Homo sapiens: one gene and its partners. The protein of the gene in region 3 purifies or fractionates together with the protein of the main gene of each other region. This does not show direct contact. Each region holds a gene or a part of one and is shown on either strand. Other genes may lie near its edges. The genes, in order: GCN1, ATP2A2 and TPTE.

Evidence for each region.
Region 1: the proteins of TPTE (region 3) and GCN1 purify together in Homo sapiens (affinity purification with mass spectrometry; 3 studies listed by BioGRID and IntAct, with this or other methods). This does not show direct contact.
Region 2: the proteins of TPTE (region 3) and ATP2A2 purify together in Homo sapiens (affinity purification with mass spectrometry; 2 studies listed by BioGRID and IntAct, with this or other methods). This does not show direct contact.

What each region holds. Positions count from the first base shown.
Region 1 is NC_000012.12:120,139,020-120,142,770, forward strand, and holds part of GCN1 (stalled ribosome sensor GCN1), read right to left. Parts: intron 3,704-3,751; coding exon 3,488-3,703; intron 2,005-3,487; coding exon 1,840-2,004; intron 1-1,839. UniProt on the Homo sapiens protein: Ribosome collision sensor that plays a key role in the RNF14-RNF25 translation quality control pathway, a pathway that takes place when a ribosome has stalled during translation, and which promotes ubiquitination and degradation of translation factors on stalled ribosomes.
Region 2 is NC_000012.12:110,326,241-110,329,991, forward strand, and holds part of ATP2A2 (sarcoplasmic/endoplasmic reticulum calcium ATPase 2), read left to right. Parts: intron 1-149; coding exon 150-235; intron 236-1,312; coding exon 1,313-1,777; intron 1,778-3,751.
Region 3 is NC_000021.9:10,601,502-10,605,252, reverse strand, and holds part of TPTE (putative tyrosine-protein phosphatase TPTE), read right to left. Parts: intron 3,196-3,751; coding exon 3,103-3,195; intron 1,692-3,102; coding exon 1,621-1,691; intron 1-1,620.

The DNA of each region.
Region 1 (3,751 bases), on a different chromosome or scaffold from region 3:
AGAGAAGGGGCCGGGCACGGTGGCTCACACCTGTAATCCCAGCACTTTGGGAGGCCAAGGTGGGCGGATGACTTGAGGCCAGGAGTTCGAGACCAGCCTGGTCAACATGGCAAAACCCTATCTCTACTAAAAATACAAAAATTAGCTGGGTGTGGTGGTGCACACCTGTAATCCCAGCTACACAGGAGGCTGAGGCACAAGAATCGCTTGAACCCAGGAAGCAGAGGCTGTAGCCAAAAGAGATGGTGCCCCTGTACTCCTGCCTGGGCAGCAGAGTGAGATTGTCTTAAACTAAAAATTTTAAAAAAATTAAAAAGTAGAGAGGGGCCGCGCACAGTGGCTCACGCCTGTAATCCCAACACTTTGGGAGGTGGAGGCAAGAGAATCACTTGAGGCCAGGAGTTTGAGACCAGCCTGGGCAACATAGTGAGACCTCACCTCTACTAAAAATGCAAAAATTAGCTACGTGTGGTGGTGCACACCTATAGTCCCCAGCTACTCAGGAGGCCATAGCGAGAGGATCACTTGAGCCCAGAAGGTCAAGGTTACAATGAGCTATGATCGCACCACTGCACTCCAGCCTGGGTGACAGAGTAAGACCCCGTCTCAATAAAAAAAAAAAGCAGAGAGGATGTGATGCACCCCCATGTATCCTTCACTGAGACTTAATAATCAACAGCTTGAATCTTTTAGGTGAATTCTCAATATACCTCCCATCTTCTCTAAGAACTGCAAACTCCTTCCCATGGCATCTGGCCCCCTCTCTCCCTGGACTCTTTCTTTTGCTTATTCTCTTGGAAAACTCCAAGTCCTTCTTCAAGTCTCAATCCAGACTTTGTGCTCTATGAAGTCTTTGGGTCTACAATGGAGCCAATAATGGCTCTGCTCCCTCAGTAACGATCCCAGCACAGCAAAGCCCACTCTGCATTCTAATGACTGGTTGGCATGTGGGCCTTGCCATTGGACTGTGGGGACTTTGCAGACAAGAACTCAGCCTCTGTGGAACTCTACCTCTCCAATGAATCACAACTCTTTCTGATGACAGAATTTCTTTTGATTCCTTGCCAAATGTAAATTTTAAAAACCAAACGTAAGACAAACATCAATATAGGAGAAGAGGGATCTGGTATCCTAGGAATTCAGACAAGGATGCCCAAGCCAAGCAACTGGCCACTTGCTTACATTTCTAGCGGGCCATCCACTTAATTGCTTTGGCGTTTTCATCCAAACACGAAGGCAGTGCCTAAAAGCACTCCTAACCTACTCCCCAGGGTGGTCTCCAGGATCATTTAACTCAGGAACCAAGTAAGAGTAATGGACTTCACACCCCTTGAACGTTGCTGCTATGGAAACAGTATTGTTGCCAGACGCAATATGCTTCCTCCCACCTGGCACCACAACTCTTACCTGCTCCCCTCCTGCTAAGGGTGAGTGCACACCCCCTCCCGCACCCTCCTGCCCTACCCACTCACACAGCTGTCCATCCCCTTTCCCAGAAGGAGGTGCACACATTTTAACTGGACTTATATAGCATCACAAAAGAGACTGATCCTGAGCAACCTCCACAGTTGTAAGAGAGCGATCATCTCCAGTTTCCAAAGGCCACTCAAGGAGGCATCCAAATCACTTAGCTCTTAGCCTGCAAAACTGACAGGAAAGCTGAGAAGACGGAGCCTCAAGTCCATGTGGCCCAGCCAGCACCTCCCCAGAGTGAGACTGGCTCATCCCTGAGGGCAGCACAAACCCCCTAGAGGTGAACCTCCTTCAGTAGCCCTCCCCCGCCCTCTGAGTCAGGTCGTCTGCAGTGCACAGCTGGCGGGATCCTTGGAAGATACTCACGGCATCCCGGCTGGTGGACTTCATGATCTCACTTAGGCCAATGCACACACCCTGCCTCTCATCGCTCTTCTGAGACCTCAGGCCTTCCTCAAGGATGGGGATGATCTCGGGGAGGATTTTCTCCCCTAACTTCCGCACAAGATCTCCCAATGTTCTCGCTGCAATCTGTCAACAGAGACCAATCCAGGAAGTAAAGTCCCTGCAAAGCCCAGGGCACCCAGAGGAGGACTCCAGAATGAGGGCCCTGAAACCTCCCAGGCTTTATCTGAATCACTGACTTAACTTCCCCAAATGCTCTTACCCCTAAAGAGCCCCCAAATACTCTCTGTAGTGCTTGCAAAACACTACCAAAAAATTATCTGTTTCACACACACCTACACAACCTAACATTAAGAGCCAGCAGCACCTTACACATGTACAAAAAATTCATCATCTGCTGCACAGTCAAGGGCCAATTTCCCTGGATGACTGAAGCCTTAACACTGTGCTATGGCTGAGCAGGAGCCGAATCTGGAACAAAGCTTTAAGGAAAAAAAAACATCTACTTTCTGAGACCTCATGCAAACCCTTCTTTAGAGCCAAATACACAATTTGCTTGCCAAGGATGGGGGGTTGGAAGTAGACCAAAGGAGATGGGCAGAAATGATCACCAGCCCATCTGGGCACCTCCTCCAGGCCCACTGATCTGTCTGCCCCTGCCAGCGCGCCAGCCTGATCTCATGCCGCACTGCTCCTCCCTGCCTCCTCACTCCAGCCACACTGGCCTTGCTCAGCCCCTACTGGTGCTATGTTCCTGCCCACCACGGGACCTCTGCATATCCTGTCTTTGTATCTGAAACATTATTTATTCCCTCTGTCTGGAATGGTCTTTCGCCACCTCCTCACCTGGTTAGTGCTTACTTATCTTTCATCTTCCAGCATCATTTCTTCTGAGAAGTGTTCACTAACACAGGCCCATCCCTCCCCAGCAGGTCAAATGCAGCTATTATAAGCATTTGCAGTGCCATGCAGCACTGGCCACAGTCGCATTTTACATCTCTTTGTGTGGTTATTTGATTAATATCCATCTCCTCGACTAGACTACCTCTCATGAGGATAAGGAATGAAGCTGCCTTTCTTCTCCATTGTGTCCCCAGGTGCTAGGCCCCTGCTTAGTGCACAGGAGATGCTAATAAATATTTGCAGAGGCCAGGCGTGGTGGCTCAAGCCTGTAATCCCAGCACTTTGGGAGGCCGAGACGGGCGCATCACGAGGTCAGGAGATCGAGACCGTCCTGGCTAACGTGCTGAAACCCCGTCTCTACTAAAAATATAAAAAAATGGCCAGGTGTGGTGGTGGATGCCTGTAGTCCCAGCTACTCGGGAGGCTGAGGCAGGAGAATGGCATGAACCTAGGAGGCGGAGCTTGCAGTGAGCTGAGATCACGCCACTGCACTTCAGCCTGGGCGACAGAGCAAGACTCCACCTCAAAAAAATAAATAAAATAAAATTAATCAAAAAATATTTGCAGAATGACTAAGTAAAGAACACAATGTCCCTCTGTTAGGCAGGGTGGATGGGTACTTTCCCAGGCTCTGCAGACCCAGCCTTCTAGGCTCTGAAAGGAGGCACTGGGGCTGCTGGTCCAAAACAAGGCCCAGGAAACTCACCGTTCTCTTATCTGCACACGTGCTGGCCAGGAAACCCAGCAGGAGCCCAAAGAGAGTGGGTAGGATCTCACGCAAGGTGCGGGGGGTATTGGAGACAACAATCTTCCAGACATGCAGGGACGCCTGCCGCACCACCAGCTGGGTGTCTGAGCGGCCCATGTACAGCCCTGCCAACACCCGGTTCCGCCGCTCTACCCCCAGGGCAGTGATGATCGCCTGCAGCCAGTAGAAGGGGACAGAGAGTAGTGAAGCCTCTATGGCATG
Region 2 (3,751 bases), on a different chromosome or scaffold from region 3:
TACCTCCTTTGAATGAATTGGGCCTTTTGCCAACCTTTTCTCACACTAACAGTATCCCAAGAGTGGTAATGGGTGGGCATGAATGAGAGGTTCTAGGTTCTTGGTGTGGGTCGCAGAGATCTGTTTTTTCTGTCTCACAACCCGCTTAGGTGAATCTGTCTCTGTCATCAAGCACACTGATCCCGTCCCTGACCCACGAGCTGTCAACCAAGATAAAAAGAACATGCTGTTTTCTGTAAGTACTTTATGAAATGTGTTTTTATTTACAGACATTTCCAAAGCCTAATCAAATGTTATGTTTTTCACTGCCAACCATCACTGGCTATCATTCTAAAGGATAATCACACTTTTCATGGTCAGTCTTAGGTGTCAGAATATGGCAGTAACATAACGTGTGACTTAGATGTCTTTTAATTGGCAAGTTTTGGGGGACCAAAAAATAATGACTAGCTTATACATCTTCAAACTCTTACCTGCAAACATAGTTGAAAAGTAGATTTGTTTGGAAAAGCCTTAGCCAATAAAGGGTATTTTCAAAATGATGTAGATGACAGCTGCTATTTGTATGTGGTTCACAATAAAAAGGTGCGTGTTTAGAGAGAGAGAGAAAGCAAACATGGCAAACCATTAATAATGGTGAGTCTAGGTGCAAAGTATATGAATGTTCATTTTACTATTTCACTTTTTCTATTGATGTGAAAAATTCTTTGAATAGTGAGGAAATGATTTTAAGTTGGGGACATTTGTGGGTTTGTATGAGAACCTGACTACTACCCATAGTAAGTAAATAGAGGTACCCTGAAAATAGTGAAGCCATGTCCTTCTCTTATAACACTAGGAATTAAAGTGGCATGGGAGAGACTGCTCACATTTGATTTCTTTGGTTTTTGGACCCTGTCACATGAGTAGGGGTTGTCAAGATAGCCCATGGGGCTAGTTGCCGTTTCTATTACAGTGAGAAAAGTAGGGGCCTTGAGTTGTTGGAGCCAGAAGTGGAGAATGCTTAGAGTTGAACTATATGAGTTTGAAAAATTGGGAACACAGAGGGGTTAAGAGCACTGCTTGAAGATGGTCTGCAAGCCGGGCTCAAATAGAAATCTAGGTGGGTCAGTACAGAGCTGCCTGACATAAGTAAGTAGCACATGGAGCATTGCTTGTTGTCACAGTTGTATGGCTGGTTGCTTGAACAGTAGCCAGTGGAAGACCTAGTAGAATGTGTAGAGAATCTGGGTGCCCTAGTCAAAAACCAGCGTCGGTATTTAAGTTGGGATGTGGTATTCATCTTGTGACCAGTTCTCTACTTCTGTCCTAGGGTACAAACATTGCTGCTGGGAAAGCTATGGGAGTGGTGGTAGCAACTGGAGTTAACACCGAAATTGGCAAGATCCGGGATGAAATGGTGGCAACAGAACAGGAGAGAACACCCCTTCAGCAAAAACTAGATGAATTTGGGGAACAGCTTTCCAAAGTCATCTCCCTTATTTGCATTGCAGTCTGGATCATAAATATTGGGCACTTCAATGACCCGGTTCATGGAGGGTCCTGGATCAGAGGTGCTATTTACTACTTTAAAATTGCAGTGGCCCTGGCTGTAGCAGCCATTCCTGAAGGTCTGCCTGCAGTCATCACCACCTGCCTGGCTCTTGGAACTCGCAGAATGGCAAAGAAAAATGCCATTGTTCGAAGCCTCCCGTCTGTGGAAACCCTTGGTTGTACTTCTGTTATCTGCTCAGACAAGACTGGTACACTTACAACAAACCAGATGTCAGTCTGCAGGGTAAGAGGAGTAATTTAGAATATTCCGTGTCGTGGTTCTTTGTTCATCCTACCAATATGCCTTCATGCCATCAAAACTTTTGATTTGTAATTTCATACATTTCTGTGGGCTGTATGTATAGCCTGAGCTTAATTTCTAATATTTGAGAGGATCTAATCATTTAATTCCTAAAACTTTCACAAAATACAGGATATCTGTATGGCTGATATACTTGTATTAGATGTAAGAGAATTAGAGAAATTATATTTTCCTTTAATTAAAAAAAAAAAAAGCCTGGGCGCAGTGGCTCACGCCTGTAATCCCAGCACTTTGAGAGGCCGAGGCGGGTGGATCACCTGAGGTCCGAAGTTTGAGACCAACCTGACCAAAATGGTGAAACCCTGTCTCTACCGAAAAGACAAAAATTAGCTGAGTGGTGGCGTGCACCTGTAGTCCCAGCTACTCGAGAGGCTGAGACAGGAGAATTGCTTGAACCTGGGCAGCGGAGGTTGCAGTGAGCCAAGATCACACCACTGCTCTCAATTCTGGGCGACAAGCAAGACTCCATCTCAAAGAAAAGAAAAGAAAAAAGACAAGGTCTCATTCTGTTGCCCAGGCTAGTGTGCAGTGACACAGCTGTGGCTCACTTACAGCCTCAACCTCCCAGGCTCAAGTCCTCCCACCCCAGCCTCACAAGTAGCTGCAACCACAAGTGCATGCCACCATGCCCCACTAGTTTTTTTATTTTTTTTTGTAGAGGCAGGTTCTCACTATGTCACCAGGCTGGTCTTGAATTCCTGGGCTCAAGTGATCCTCCTGCCTTGGCCTCCCAAAGAGCTGGGATTATAAGCATGAACCACCACACTCAGCCTCCTTTCTAATTTTCCTGATCCTCTGTCTCTAGGTGTATGTTAATAGACAAGTTCTAGAGAAAGCTGCTAGTTAACCTCCCTACCTGAAGTCCTAATTGGTTTTTCTATCACATGTTGAATGAAGCGTGCTTTTTCTCAAAAAGTAGATAGTCATCTCTCTGTATTCATTAGAGATTGGTTCCAGGACCTCCCTCAGATACCAAACTCTGCAGATGCTCAAGTCTCTGAAATGAAATGGTTCAGTACTTGCATATAACCTTGTTCATCCTCCAGTATACTTGAAAACATCTCCAGATTACTTACAGTACCTAACGTAATATTATAAATGATATGTAAATAGTTAAACTGTGTTGTTTAGGGATAGTTAACCTGTGTTGTTTAGGGAATAATGACAAGAAAAAAATGTACATGTTCAGTACAGATGCAGTTATTTTTTCCATCTGCTGTTTAGTTGACCGTGGATGTGGAACCCACAGGTACAGAGGGCTGACTAAAATTGCTTTTAACTTGCTTTATTCTGTGTATTCATCATATATATTTTTGTTTGTTTGTTTGTTCTTGTTTTGAGATGGAGTTTCACTCTTGTTGCCCAGGCTGTAGTGCAATGGCCCGATCTCAGCTCACTACAACCTCCGCCTTCTGGGTTCAAGCAATTCTCCTGCTTCAGCCTCCCAAGTAGCTGGGATTACAGGCATGCGCCCCCACGCCCGGCTAATTTTTTGTATTTTTAGTAGAGATAGGGTTTCTCCATGTTGGTCAGGCTGGTCTCGAACTCGCGACCTCAAGTGATCCACCCGCTTTTGAAAGCCTCCCAAAGTGCTGGGATTATAGGCGTGAGCCCCCGCGCCCGGCCATCCTATATTTTTTGACCATCATTTGATAAAATAAATAATTTAAACCTGCTGTTAGAAAAGTAACAACTGAATAAATAATGCAATAATTATACAGCTGGATTATTTTGTATAATTCACTTTCCTTAGGTTTTGCTTAAACAACTTGGTACAAGTCTATTCCAAAAGGTACACATGACTCATACAGAGTAGACATTTGTCACATATTTTATTCGGCTCATTAATTAGCAAGGGAATCTGTATTTGAGGAAGTGTTCAATATTAGAATATTA
Region 3 (3,751 bases):
AGACATAAAAATACTTTAATCTTCAGCAACACATCAGTAACACATGCTGACTCTCTTAGCATTGCTTTATATGGAATTAATGACATCCAAGTTTAATAAAATATCTAAATTTCTCTCTGTGACAGAAATCAGTCAGGATAGACATGAATGAAAGCCCAGTAATAAAATACTATATCTCTTTTAATTTATGTGTGAGGTTGCAATTTTTTGAATTTTTACAATCAGACCTTGGAAATGACCTTGAGCAGTAGGATATAACTCCCACATGCTGAGTGTTCCAATAATGGAACACTAGGCATAAATTGGTTAACCCATTTATGCCTCGTGTTCTCAATGATAGAAGTTAGCATTTTTAGCTAAACAACAATCTCATAACAAAAACAGCTTTACCAAGTAGGATGTAAATTTAAATGTTACAGAAATCTTTAGAAATTTATATAAAATAAGAATAAAAGTGACCTAGCTTATCACTTCTCCAAAATGAACATAGTGTTTTAAAGGAAAAAAAAAATGGTATCCTTTAGCAAGAACCACTTTTGAGGAGCAGCATCAAATGAAGCTCCACCCAGGTCTCACTTTTTGAGGGTCTTTGCTCATGTTAGAATAAAAAGCTTATTGTTTGTATGCATCCAAAAAAAAAAACTTGTAAAAAATTTCCATCAAATACAAAGTTGACTCTATCAAAATCCATTAAATGTTTTGCATTGCAAGTGTGCAGACCAGAGGTTTAATTTCCTGTTGCCTTGCTGGACTTAAGGAATCATTCGATCCAGTTCACATTTGAAGAAAAGATTAGGACTGGATGTAACAATAACTATCAATTCATGCCACATATAATCATAGCCACTTCTTCAACTCTGACCTAAATCATTTAAAAAATATTTTGTCCTTTTGTATTGAAGAGTATGGTTGACACAAAAAAAGTCTCAATTTTTCACCATCACAAAACAAATGCTACTTACAGTGGAGAACTTCTAGACTGAGAAATGAGTTTCCAAATATGGCAGAAGGTTTTTTTGGAACAATAATCTCCAAATCCAATTAATAATTTTTCAGAAAGGTTTCCCAATTCAGTTATTAGAAAGCCATATTTGAATGGCTATTTAAATAGACTATTACTTAATGATATTTCTTAGCTGTATTCCTTAATACTGTGTCTTGTGACTTCTCCTAGATATAAGTGTGTCAGTCAGCTTTTCAGCTAGCTGAAGCCTCCCTAGGTCCTGCCTTCCTTTAGCACAAAAGTTGATGGTGGTTCATCATTGGTAAATCAACACCTACTGACAGGGACCTGACATATTGAAGGTGCTGAGCAGCCTCATATTGAACTTCTCTGGGAGGAATTTACTACCACACTTAAGATCTGATGATAATACTTTTGAACTCGTAACACAGTCCTATGGCATGGACCCTGAGGATACTGCAACAGTGGGTCTCAAGAACAAATGGATTTTTAAAATAACCAAAGTAAGAAGAGTAAGGCAAGGAACAATGGTGGTTCAAGGATTTTTTGCTTTCTATAAATTAAGTTTATGACAACCAGCAAAAGACTTGCCATTACACCTTATACATAGACATTGAAGATTAGGCTGTTTCTATGGGTTTCTATTATATTCATACCTGTTATTTTCAATAAAAGATGTGTGCAACCAGAAGTAAAATGAGCAATTGTCATAGTATGTAGGAAGATTCTAAAAAGAAAAAAAAATTTCAAAGTAAAACTGATACCAAGAACTAATCATTCCAAAGAAATTGAAGTTCCTTTCTTTATTCTTTTTTATATTTATCAAACAATTATAACCATTAAATATGTGGCACTCTGCAATCTATAACAATACACTCAAGACACAAAGGAGGAGGCTTTAAGAAAATGCTACTGCATTCTCTTGCTGTTTCTATCAAAATTTTCAAGGAATAGTATTTTTCCCATGATAGGTATTTAATTTAAATGCTGCTATTTGAATCTGGTTTAGATAGTGCCAAACAGACTCTACTAAGGACCTATGTCTATATATACCCAACTACATTGTAGTGAATTCTTGTAATTTTTTTGTTGCCTCAGCATCCCTTTTAATTATAAATTGGATTTTCTGATATCAGAAGCGGGGTTCAGTCACCCGCAGCAGTTTCCCGTTCACCTCCTCCCAGTTTCTCCATGTGACTGATCCTGATATCTGCCTTACACAACCTTCTCATGATGACCACTTCACTATGGGACAGCTAAATATAACCTACTTGACTCACCCCACAGACCCCCATACTCTGCAGGGACCATGTGGATATATCAGTGACCACCTCTCAGTCACAGCAGAGACTCATAGCTGCTTGCATTAAACCAAATTAGACCTCCCCGCAGGAAACCTGCTCAGGTAGCACCTTACATCCCAATAAAGGCTTCCACTCTCAGGTCCCTCCCTCTCTCTCGCTATTGCTCCCACCCATCAGTCGAGCACAGGTCTCCTGGATGGCTCCCCCTTCTAGTTGGCCCTGCGAAGTGTGCTGCCCTCCTCTCTCTGGAATTAATAAAAAACTGCTTCGGTTATTTCATGTGTTGTATTGTGCTGCCTTCTCTGTTTCACCCAACTGAGTCACCCAAACCTAACTCTCTTTCCAGTCAGTGCTCCCAGCTACTCGGGAGGCTGAGGTGGGAGGATTGCTTGAGCCCAGGAGGTTGAAGCTACAGTTAGCTATGATCACGTCACTGCACTCCAGCCTGGGTGACACAGTGAGACCCTGTCTCAATTTCTTAATTTTTTAAAAAAGATGCAAAACAAAATGTAATCAATGCTATGCAGTAAAACATACCTTTGGGGTTTTTTTTTTTTAGCATCTTGACTTTGTGTGTGTGTTTATTTTGTATTTTTTGTATTTGAGAATACATGTAAATTTAGAAAAATTTAGAAAATTTACAATTTAGAAAAAAACAAATGAACAAAAATTATTTAAATTACATACGCTCTTTTAAAAAAATTTGTTATAGATCTGATTTATTGTTTTCTTCCCCCTACCCCTCCCTTGTTGGGAATTGTAGTAAAGCAAATCTTACATGAAATCATTAGACCAGACAAGAACAATGGCAGAGGCTACTTTGTGATTACTCACCGAATAGAAAAACTGCACTTTCACATCATCATACAGAGGTAGACCGTCGAATACATCAATTAATATTTTGTCTGTTGTAATGTTATCAAGTACCTATGAATGAACACATGGAATTGAGAACTATAAACCTAGATAATGATAACAATGAAGTTCCTTTTCACTTATCATGACTTCCTGTATTTATCAAGTACTTTTGGTCTCACAGCCCAATCACTACATACATAAATAATTATTAATAATCTCTTCTAGTTGCAATACTGTTGTTTATGCGTGTGTGTTTACATTTGCTTTTTGTTTTCTGAGACAGAGTCTCACTGTCACCCAGGCTGAAGTGCAGTGGCATGATCTCGGCTCACTGCAACCTCTGCCTCCCAGGTTCAAGTGATTCTTGTGCCTCAGCCTCCCAAGTAGCTGGGACTATAGGCACATGCCATCATACCCAGCTAATTTTTGAATTTTTAGTAGCGATGGGGTTTCACTATATTAGGCAGGCTGGTCTCAAACTCCTGCTTCAAGTGATCTGCCCACCTGGGTCTCCCAAAGTACTGGATTACAGGCATGAGCCACTGCACCTGGCCTGTTGTTTATGTCTTTTAAAGGCCAACATATTTGAGGGTTATCATGAACCACTTTTCTTTTCTTTTTTTTT